2 separate regions of the Homo sapiens genome follow, and region 2 is linked to region 1. The links come from fine-mapping of genetic effects on gene expression. Tissue or cell type: whole blood. Region 1 holds a variant in brackets; the other region holds the start of a gene. All regions are shown on one strand. Distances are from middle to middle.

The links. PIP is the estimated chance that this variant, and not a neighbour inherited with it, causes the effect.
Region 2: GNA13 starts here. The variant in region 1 is fine-mapped to the expression of GNA13 in whole blood (INTERVAL, PIP above 0.99).

What each region holds. Positions count from the first base shown.
Region 1 is chr17:64,997,989-65,003,248 of GRCh38, forward strand. LOC124904044 (a long non-coding RNA gene) reads right to left here and starts at 61. Exons shown (of 2, transcript XR_007065877.1): 1 at 1-61. The variant T/C (reference allele first, on the strand shown) is at 2,263.
Region 2 is chr17:65,053,883-65,058,882 of GRCh38, forward strand. It overlaps GNA13 (G protein subunit alpha 13), which reads right to left and starts at 2,858. Exons shown (of 4, transcript NM_006572.6): 1 at 2,429-2,858. The coding sequence starts at 2,711. RefSeq lists silencers at 2,096-2,355, 2,636-3,145.

The DNA.
Region 1 (5,260 bases):
TCTTGCCTGAATTTACGTGTTGAAAAATGAACGTTAAGGCCGGGCACAGTGGCTCATGCTGTAATCCCAGCACTTTGGGAGGCCAAGGTGGGCGGATCACTTGAGGCCAGGAGTTCAAGACCTGCCTGGCCAGCATGGCGAAATTTCATCTCTCCTAAAAAAATACAAAAATGAGCTGGGCATGGTGGCGGGCACCTGTAATCCCAGCTACTCGGGAGGCTGAAGCTTGGACCTGGGAGGCGGAGGTTGCAGTGAGCCAAGATCACACCACTGCACTCCAGACTGGGCAACAGAGTGAGACTCTGTCCCCCCACCCCAAAAAAAGAGAAAAGTAAAGAATGTTAAAACACTCACCACTGAGGGATGTTTACTATATGCCTGAACACAATGCTAACTTTAAAAAACAGCTATTGCTCTTTGGCTCGAGTCACAGACGGAAGAAGAAAAAAAATTAAAATACACGGCTATTGTGTGTTTTCCTATAGTAAAAATAGAGGAGAGCTGAATTCTGTTGGGCATGGAGTTAATAATAATTTACACCTGTGATGCTCAGCCAACCACACAGTTGGGGTGCTTGTGAATTTTACTTACAGATCCTATTAATATAAGGCTGAACTTCTCCATTTCCACCCTCCCACTTCAACCACCATCAACACGACTCCTCTCTCAGGGGACTTTTAGCTCCACTATCACTGCAGGGTGGCAAAGGTGATGCTACAGCCCAACAATTTCACACATTTGTTTCCAGTTTATTTTATTTTATTATTTTTTTTTGAGACAGAGTGTCTCCCTTCACCCAGGCTGGAGTGCAGTGGCTCCATCCTGGCTCACTGCAACCTCCGCCTCCCGAGTTCAAGCGATTCTCCTGCCTCAGCCTCCTGAGTAGCCGGGATTACAGGTGCAAACCAGCATGCCCGGCTAATTTTTGTATTTTTTTTTTTTTTTAGTAGAAACGGGGTTTCACCATATTAGCCAAGCTGGTCTTGAACTCCCAACTTCAGTTGATCCACCCGCCTCGGCCTCCCAAAGTGTCATGTGTGAGTCACCATGCCCAGCCTGGTTTCCAGTTTCTTTGGGGGAAAATTGCCAAGGCAAAACCCAAATGAAACGAAGAGGATGATAGAGAAAGAGGAAAGAAGGAAGGCAAAGCAAAGGGAGTGAAGAAGTAGATAAAAATAAAAATAGCTGCCCCTCAGCCTGGGCAACATAGGAAGACCCCCACTCTAAGAAAATTTTAAAAAATTAACCAGATGTTGTCACAAGCACCTGTAGTCCTAACTCCTCGGGAGGCTGAGACTGGAAGATTATTTGAGCCCAGGAGGCTGCAGTGAGCTATGACTGCACCAGTGTACACCAGCCTGGGCAACAGAGTGAGACCCTGTCTCTAGGAAAAAGAAAAAACAGCTACCCCCAATTCCTATCCCATGCCTGGCACTGCAGCACTTTCTGCATTTGATGTTAAACTGAACCTGCCGCATAGGTGTTATAGGTAAGGCAAGCGACACGCAGAGGGGCTGGCATTTGCCTAAGGCCACACAGCTCAGGAAACACAGAAGCCTGGATTTGAATCCAAGTCCATCTTATGTTAAAGCCCATGTTCTTGCTTACTGATCACAGAAGCACCCTACTCTCATTCCTTAAAGAATCTTACAAAACGAAAGAAAAAAGCAGCACAGCAATTCTCTAGAAAATCCATTAGCGGGCACGGTGGCTCATGCCTGTAATCCCAGCACTTCGGGTGGCTGAGGCTGGTGGATCACCTGAGGTCAGGAGTTCGAGACCAGCCTGGCCAACATGGCAAAACCCCATCTCTACTAAAAATAGAGAAATTACCAGCCTGGCCAACACGGCAAAACCCCGTCTCTACTAAAAATAGAGGAATTACCAGCCTGGCCAACATGGTCCAGTCTGGCCAACATAATGAAACTTCATCTCTACTAAAAATACAAAAATTAGCTGGGCGTGGTGGCACACGCCTGTAATCCCAGCTACTCAGGAGGCCAAGGCAGGAGAACCGCTTGAACCCGGGAGGCGGAAGCTGCAGTGAGCTGAGATTGCGCCACTGCACTCCAGCCTGGGTGACAGAGCGAGACTCCATCTCAAAACAAACAAAAATTTAGCTGGGCATGGTGGTGGGCACCTGTAATCCCAGCTACTTGGGAGGCCAAGGCAGGAGAATCACTTGAACCCGAGAGGCAGAGGTTGCAGTGAGCTGAGATCATGCCACTGCACTGCAGCCTGGGCAACAAGAGTGAAACTCCA[T/C]CTCAAAAAAAAGAAAAAAAGAAAAGAAAATCCATTAGTTAGAGTTGAAAGCTTGAGTGAGAAAATGTAGTGAGTTATGTCTTATGCTGGAATAGCAGTTTGGATCTCTTGTATTGTTGAGCAAAAAGGCCATTAAAGAAATGGAGCACAGTAAGGCTGGCAAGAAAGCGCTGCCCCGCAGGGCTTCATTATAATGAGGCCACGAGGGGCTTCTGGCTGAGATGAAAGATCTTGATGTCATGGATCCAGCATAACTCAGTCCTTCTTGCCTTCTGGTGTGGACCCTACTCAAGCCCAGGCTTTGAAACTGATTATGTTTACAACATTTCCCCAATGAGGGTATGATCTCTTTATTCTTTCTGACTTTTTATGATGAGAAGTTTCAAACATACACAAAATTTGAAAGAAGAGAATCAGGAACACCTAAGAACAGAATAATGGACAATTAATATCTTACCACTTGCTTTATTTCTCTGTCTCTGTCTCTCTCTCTTCCTCGATTTCCTCCTTGGCTTCCTTGATACCCCTCCCTCCGAGAGCACACGCCTTTCTGATGCTCCTACTTGGACAGTTCTCTGTCCTCCTCTTGAAGCCAAGGTTTCCTGCTAGCCCACTTCTCTCCTGACTCTAGGCAGTCAGTCCCCTAGGACAGGGGTCCCCAACCTCTGGGCCACAGACCAGTATTGGTCCATGGTTTGTTAGGAACTGGGCCACACAAGCAGGAGGTGAGCAGTGGGTGAATGAGGGAAGCTTCCTCTGAATTTACAGGCGCTCCCCATTGCTCGCATTACCGTGAGCTCCGCCTCCTGTCAGATCAGCGGTGGCATTAGATTTTCATAGGAGCGCAAACCCTATTGTGAACTGTGCATTTGAGGAATCGAGATTGAGCACTCCATATTAGAATCTAATGCTCGATGATCCGTCACTGTCTCCCATCAACCCCAGATGGGACTATCTAGTTGCAGGAAAACAAACTCACTGCTCCCACTGATTCTACATTATGGTGAGTTGTATAATTATTTCATTATATATTACAGTGCAATAATAATAGAAATAAAGTGCACAATAAATGTAACATGCTTTAATCATCCCAAACCCACTATCCCCACTTGGTCCGTGGAAAAATTGTCTTCCACAAAACCGGTCCCTGGTGCCAAAAAGGTTGGGGACCACTGCCCTAGAACCATCTCCCTACAACCCACAGCTTCAGCCACTGTGCTTGTAGCTTACATTCTGCACTTTTATCAATCAGACCTCTCCACTGAGCTTGAGACCTGTAGATCCAGCTGCAGTTAGATGCCCCAAAGGGACCTCAGACTCAGCATGTCCCTCAGAGCCTACCTGGCCCACCCAAGTCTGTTTCTTCCCCCAGACGTCCTATTTCAGGAATGGCTCCATCCAGTTGCTCCACCAGAAACCTGGGCAGCCTGCTGGGTTTCACCCTCTTCCCTCCACCTGCTGCTTCCAAGTGCTCTGTCCAGTTTTCTGCCTGAAGTATCCTTTTCATTCACCTCCTTCCAATTCCATTGCTAATGTATAAGCTCAGGTATCTTGCTTTTCCTGTACCTCAGCAGCCCTCACTTCAGTTCTTGCCTCCGGCCAGTTGTCACCCTCACTGGGATTACTGTAATACCGCTGAGGTCATGTCGTTCTGCCTCTTGTTTTTCTTTTTCTTTTTCTTTTTTTTTTTGAGATGGAGTCTTACTCTGTCACCTAGTCTGGAGTGTCGTGGTGCGAACTCAGCTCATTGCAACCACCTCCCAGGTTCAAACGATTCTCCTGCCTCAGCCTCCTTAGTAGCTGGGATTACAGGAGTGTGCCATGCCCGGCTAATTTTTTTTTTTTTTTTTGACAGAGTCTTGCTCTGATGCCCAGGCTGGAGTGCAGTGGCGTGATTTCAGCTCACTGCAACCTCCGCCTCTCAGGTTCAAGTGATTCTCTCACCCCAGCCTCCCAAGTAGCTGGGATTACAGGCATGCGCCACCATGCCTGGCTAATTTTTGTATTTTTAGTAGAGATGGGGTTTCACTGTGTTGGCCAGGCTGGTCTTGAACTCCTGACCTCAAGTGATCTGCCTGCCTTGGCCTCCCAAAGTGCTGGGATGACAGACGTGAGCCATTGCACTCGGCCCCATTCCACTTCTTATAATGCTTACTGGTTTTTCATGCCCATGGGATAAAAGCCAACGGTGTTGATCTGGCACGTGAGGACCTCCATGACATGTTCACTGCTCATTTACTCAGCTTTACCTCTTGCTACTCATCCACCACCTTTCTATCTTCCAACTGGTTAGGGTTCTTGCTGCTACCCAACTTGTAAGCCCCACACACCTCAGTGCCTTCGCACATGCGGTACCCTCTGTCTAGGACTCCCTTCCATACCTGTGTCTGACTCATCTTTTATCATAGTCTTTCATATTTTTGTTCCCCTTACTAAACAGTGAACTTTTGGGGGTGGGGATCAGGGAACTGTTTCTCCTCCTTACCCTCATCACCTTACAGAAGGCTATCAGTGAAAGGTGCTCGATCAAAGCTAGATAATGAAAGAACTCCCGGCTTTCTTACTGACACAATGTTCCACCATCTGGCATGCAGCCTTTCCTGCGTGTTAGGTCTAGGTAAATTTAAGACATCTTTAAAGCCCCAGCCCAAACACCTTCTCTTCCACAAAAGTATCCCTGCCAGGCTGGGCAACACAGTGAGACCCTGACTCTACAAAAAAAAAATAATAATAATAATTGGGCACAGTGGCACGCACCTGTGGTCCTAGCTACTTGGGAGGCTGAGGCAGGAACATCACTTGAGCCCAGGAGGTCAAGACTGCAGCGAATTGTGATCCTGCTTCTGCAATCCACCCTGGGTGACAGAGCGAGACTGTGCCTCAAAAAAAAAGAAGAAAAAAAAAAAAAGGCTGGGCACAGTGGCTCATGCTTGTAATCCTAACACTTTGTGGGGCTGAGGTGGGTGGATCTCCTAAGGTCAGGAGTTCAAGACCAGCC
Region 2 (5,000 bases), 56 kb after region 1:
CAGAGGTTAAAAAAAATAACAGTTGCTCACTGTCTTAAAATTAGAGCCTTGAAAAGCAAATACTATTAGCACAATTCCTCTCTCTGAAGGATTTTTAACATGTTCCAATTTATAAAATAACTTCTAGGATAGAAGGTAGTCAAAAAACAATCTAACTCAAGAAAGAAAAAGAAGTTATGCTGCACAGACCAACAATGTCCAAGCTCAGAAGAAAACAGACACAACCAAGGTTTTATGAGCCTAAAAGATGTTCATTTATGAAACACTAAGAACCAACTACTATAGCTCCATGTTCTGTTTGTTGCTTCGGCACCCTAACCCAACATTGAGTCTTCTAGCAACACATTCAAAATTTAAAAACTTCTTCCAGCCCAAGTTTCAATCCAGTTTAAGTTACAGGATGGCCTTCAATTTCCCTAAAAGGGAGGAAGATCAACTGCAAAATAATACAAAGTCGGACTCCAACTCACAGAGGTTAGTTGAAACTCATTTTTCCTATCACTGATCTATTACTTTTATTAAGTTTGATCAATCTGAACAGTCACTTGGCTATTAGGAAGTCATCTGAATAACTGAAAAACGGGTGGGGTTTTTTTGTTTTTGTTTTTTAATAGAGACGAGGTCTGGCTATGTAGCCCAGCTGGTCTGGAACTCCTGGGCTCAAGCCATCCTCCCACTTTGGCCTCCCAAAGTGCTGGGATTGCAGGAGTGAGCCACCACGCCCAGCCTGAGAAACTGTTCTACTGTCAAATTTCATGTCAACTTGAAAAAACTAGATTCCTGATGACTTACATCATCTCATAATCAATGCTCAACGTAGATCACACTTACAACTCAGTGTACATTAAGAACGAGGTGTTTACCAGGCTCACAGTCAGTTAACATGTTGATGCTATTCATTAACATAATTCCTTAAGTTCAGCTGCATCAGGTTACAAAGGTACCTTCAATTAAGGACTGTCAAGGCAGAGTCTGCAGCCTTGAAAGAGACCTTAATTAGTTTTGAGCTAAACATTACAGCAGGATAAATACAACTGTTCTTTATAGTTTAACTGCAGAGGTACTAGGGCTAGAGCTGGCTGTGGTCTAGTGATTCTCTCTAATTCATTACTCCATAATGCCTGGCTCTTCAGGCAGTTTTCCTTTACCCAAACGCTGGAAGCTCGGGAGGCGGTTGGCGGGGAGGGGGCGGGGGGGTGACATGCAGAAGTCCCTTATGTACTTCCTGAACAAAAATCCCACTTAAAAAGACCTGCAATCTGTAGCAAACTCCTAAACTGCTCCCCAGATAAAATAAAATCCAGATGCACCTGAGTTACCAGGCGCTGCACCTAAATTTTGCCAAAATGCCTTTTCTATAGAACATACTTGACACGCAGAAACGAGTGTTAATTATCTTTCAAATGACAAAATAAAAACCATCTTTTCGATTTCTTTGAATGCCCAGAAATAAACAACTTGTTTATTTTTCACTTAAGAACAAAGTTTAATTTTAAAACTACTGTCAATAAAGAGCCGAGCCAATTATCTAACTCAACACTCATTCATTGTCTCCATCTGTACAGGATCCACATGACTTTTAGGCCAGTCTTCTTACTACTACATTTCATCTAAATAGAAGCAGTGGTACTCCCTTCCTGCCAGCCCCCAGTTACTTAGCGAAAAGGAGAGTGGAACGTGTTGCACAGAAATCACACGCAAACATCCTACCTGACCGTGACACTGGGGCGAAAAAGCACAGATGCTACATTTTCATGCTAACTGTATGGGTCCACTCTCTCCTGATTCCAGTACAGTCAACCTGACACTCCTCAAGTTTCATATTCTCGCCCAAAAGGAGGCTGTCACCCTACGCCCTTGACAAGAAGTCTCGGGCAAAAAGTTCCCTTATTGCGACGGTTCCAGAACTCGCTTGCTTAGGAGACGGCCAAGGAAGCAGGGAGTTGGGAGCGCATGCGACCCCATGTGACTCGGGTCACCCAGCCAGGGTAGCGAGGTTCGGCCCACATCGCCCGAGCAGGGGATGGGGGTGAAGCGGCTAGGGCTGCTATTGGTGTTCCTGCCTCATCCGCAGCGGGGAGGACAGGAGAGGTCTGCCCACACCCCGAGGCAGCACCCAGCTCGCCCCACTTCCCTCTCGCAGGGGGAGAGACCAGGACGCGGTGGGGGGTGGGGGAATGGCCGTGACGCCCACCGGGGAGACAAGCGGGAGAGCAGGGCGACCCCGAGCATCCTCTCGCCCTGGGGCGCGAGGGCACCCCGGGCGGGCAGGGCCAGTTGCCGGGGCGCGCCCCCTTCCCGCCAGCCCGCCCGCCGGGCCCGTTCCTTCGCCAGCGACACAGCGGACCAGGGCGGTGCCCCGCCCCGCACCCGCCGCCGCCCCAGCCCCCCTGCCCTTAACCCCCGGCCCCCATTCCCGGCCCGGCACCTTTGATCACGTTGCTGTAGATGGTGGGGCGGAACTCCTCGCGCGCGCGCTGGTCGAAGTCCTGCCCGTGGATGATCCGCATCTGCTTCAGGAAGGTGGACTTGCCGCTCTCGCCCGCGCCCAGCAGCAGGATCTTCACCAGCCGCTTCACATAGGTCTTTTCCCGAGACAGGCATTTGTCGATCTCCTTGGACTTGCGTTGCTGCTCGGCCTCGCCACTCGTCAGCAGGCAGCCGGGGAAGCACACGGACAGCACGGACCGCGACGGCAGGAAGTCCGCCATCTTGCCGCCGCCGCCGCCGCCTCGGCGGGCCCCTCCGGCTCCCTCCACCTCCTCCTCCGGCGGCGGGCGGCTCCGGCACCGAGGCTCGAGGGCGGGGAGCGCGGCGGCGGCCCGAGCGCGCCCAGGGAGGGAGGGAACCAGCGAACTGACTCGCAGGGCGGGCCGGGCAGGGCGGGCCAGGACAGCGGGGGAGGGAGGGAGGGAAGGAGGGCGGGCCCGGCCCCGGAGGGGCGGTGGCCCCGGAGCGTGCGCGCTCCCGCTGCCTCCCGGAGGCGCGCTCGCACGCCGCGGCCGCTTCTCCGCCTCCCGCCCTGGGCGGCGAGTCACGAGCTCGATGTGTCGCTCGGGTGCCCGCGCCCGCAGCCGCGGCCGGGCGCGCGGGGAGGGCTGAGGAACCGCGGTCACGTGGGCCAGGCTGGGGAGCCCGACTTTCTGTTTCCCTTTCATGGCCTGAGCCCACTTGTGGGCAGAAGGGCTCCTTCCCCAAGGCCGGGAGGCCGGAGACCAGGTCCCGGACGCGGTTCTTTGGGCTCCCACTTAGCCTCCCTTTCTCCCGCGTTGCGCGCCCGCTGCCCGCTGTCACCGCCCACCCGACCCATTTCGAGGCCACGGACTCGAAAGTTATTCGAACAGAACAGCCGGCGTGAGCCTGGCAGGCCTTTGGTGCATTTTCTTTATTTCATTTTATTTTTTCTCTTTTGAGACGGAGTCTCACCCTGTCGCCCAGGCTGGAGTGCATTGGCTCGATCTCGACTCACTGCAACCTCCGCCTCCCAGGTTCAAGCCATCCTTCCGCCTCAGCCTCCCGAGTAGCTGGGAGTACAGGCGTGTGCCATCATACCCGGCTAAATTTTTTGTATTTATTTTTAGATACAGGGGCTCCCCCCTATGTTGCCCAGGCTGGTCTCGAACTCCTGAGCTCAAGCGATCCTCTAGCCTCGGCCTCCCACAGTGCGGGGATTCCAGACAGAGCCACCAGGCCCAGGCCTGGTGTGTTTTCTTAAAGTGACTCCCTTGACCTTCTAGTCTCCGAATCCCAGAACGGTAACCAGACGTCGTCCACCCCCACTTCCAGCTCTTTCTGGCATTTTCAGACCCCTACCAGGGCTCTCTGTGAGGGGAAAGAACTGGAGTTGATGTTCACTTGAGACGTGCTACCAGGGGCATTTAATGGCTCACTCGTGCATTCCACCTGGGCTGTGATGTGACTTCAGGGACGCTTGGCCGCGCCGGAATTAGCGAGTGGCAGCAGGAGGGTGAGGTCATGGTGAAAATCCCCTACACCGGACACTGTGATGTAGGCTCTTCCCAACAAGGAAGCAGATACACAAACACAACGAGGAATGGGAGCACGCAAATTTTAGCTTTCCTGCCAGATTACAGAGGATATGACCCGTCCAGGGACTTTTTTTCTGTCCTAACAGCAGATTCAGGCCAGGACACCTGAAAGGAGGCCAGGAGACAAGCCACAAGTGACAGCTGTGGGTTGGCAGAGAAACTGCTTAACCGGGACCCCCGAGAGCCGACCTCTTCATTCTTAGTATTTAGTTTCAAGTGGAAAAAGCCACTTTGGTCTGTCCCTGTTTTGGGCAATGCAACGTAGCTTTGGGCTCCTGTGGCTCAGAAACTTCGTATGTATAAGGGAGCGGAGGTAAGAGGTCAGCATTCCAAGAAACTCCCGAACAGGTTTAAATTTTAAAATCGGTACTAATCAGTTACTCCCTGGGGTTGGGTTAATGACCGAGAAGCCTCGACTCAGTAGATTGGCTGCAGTAAACAATGCCTGTAGTAGGATTATCTCCTGTGGCTCTGGCAAGCCCAGAGGGTGGACAACCTACAATATACAAGTAGAGTAGGCTCACCTCCAATATCTGTGGATTGATAAGAGTCAGAATCACTGAGCAGTGCTGTCAGGCAAAATATATGGTAAAAGCCTGCCCTGGATGGAGAATTTTTCCATCATCTCATCTAGTGTTTGGGAGGCCCTGTTCTCTAACCATGCAAGGACTCGCCTCTCCCAGGATTGGGGCATAGAACCTGTCCCCGAGCACTGTTTCTGCATTGACCCCAGGTGCTAATCTGAACTCCAACAAAGAGGAGAGAAACTTGTAAGTTAGGTAGTTAACATCTTTTTTCAGAAGTGTGTGTAATATAATGGAAAACCAAGAATGCCTAGGAGGCAGGAAGGTATTCCTGCCCAGCCAGTTCATGTCGTGACATGCAGAGCAGCAGAGAAAGCTGTTTAAAGCCCTGCGTGTAAGCTTGCCTTGGAACAAACTTGGCTCACAT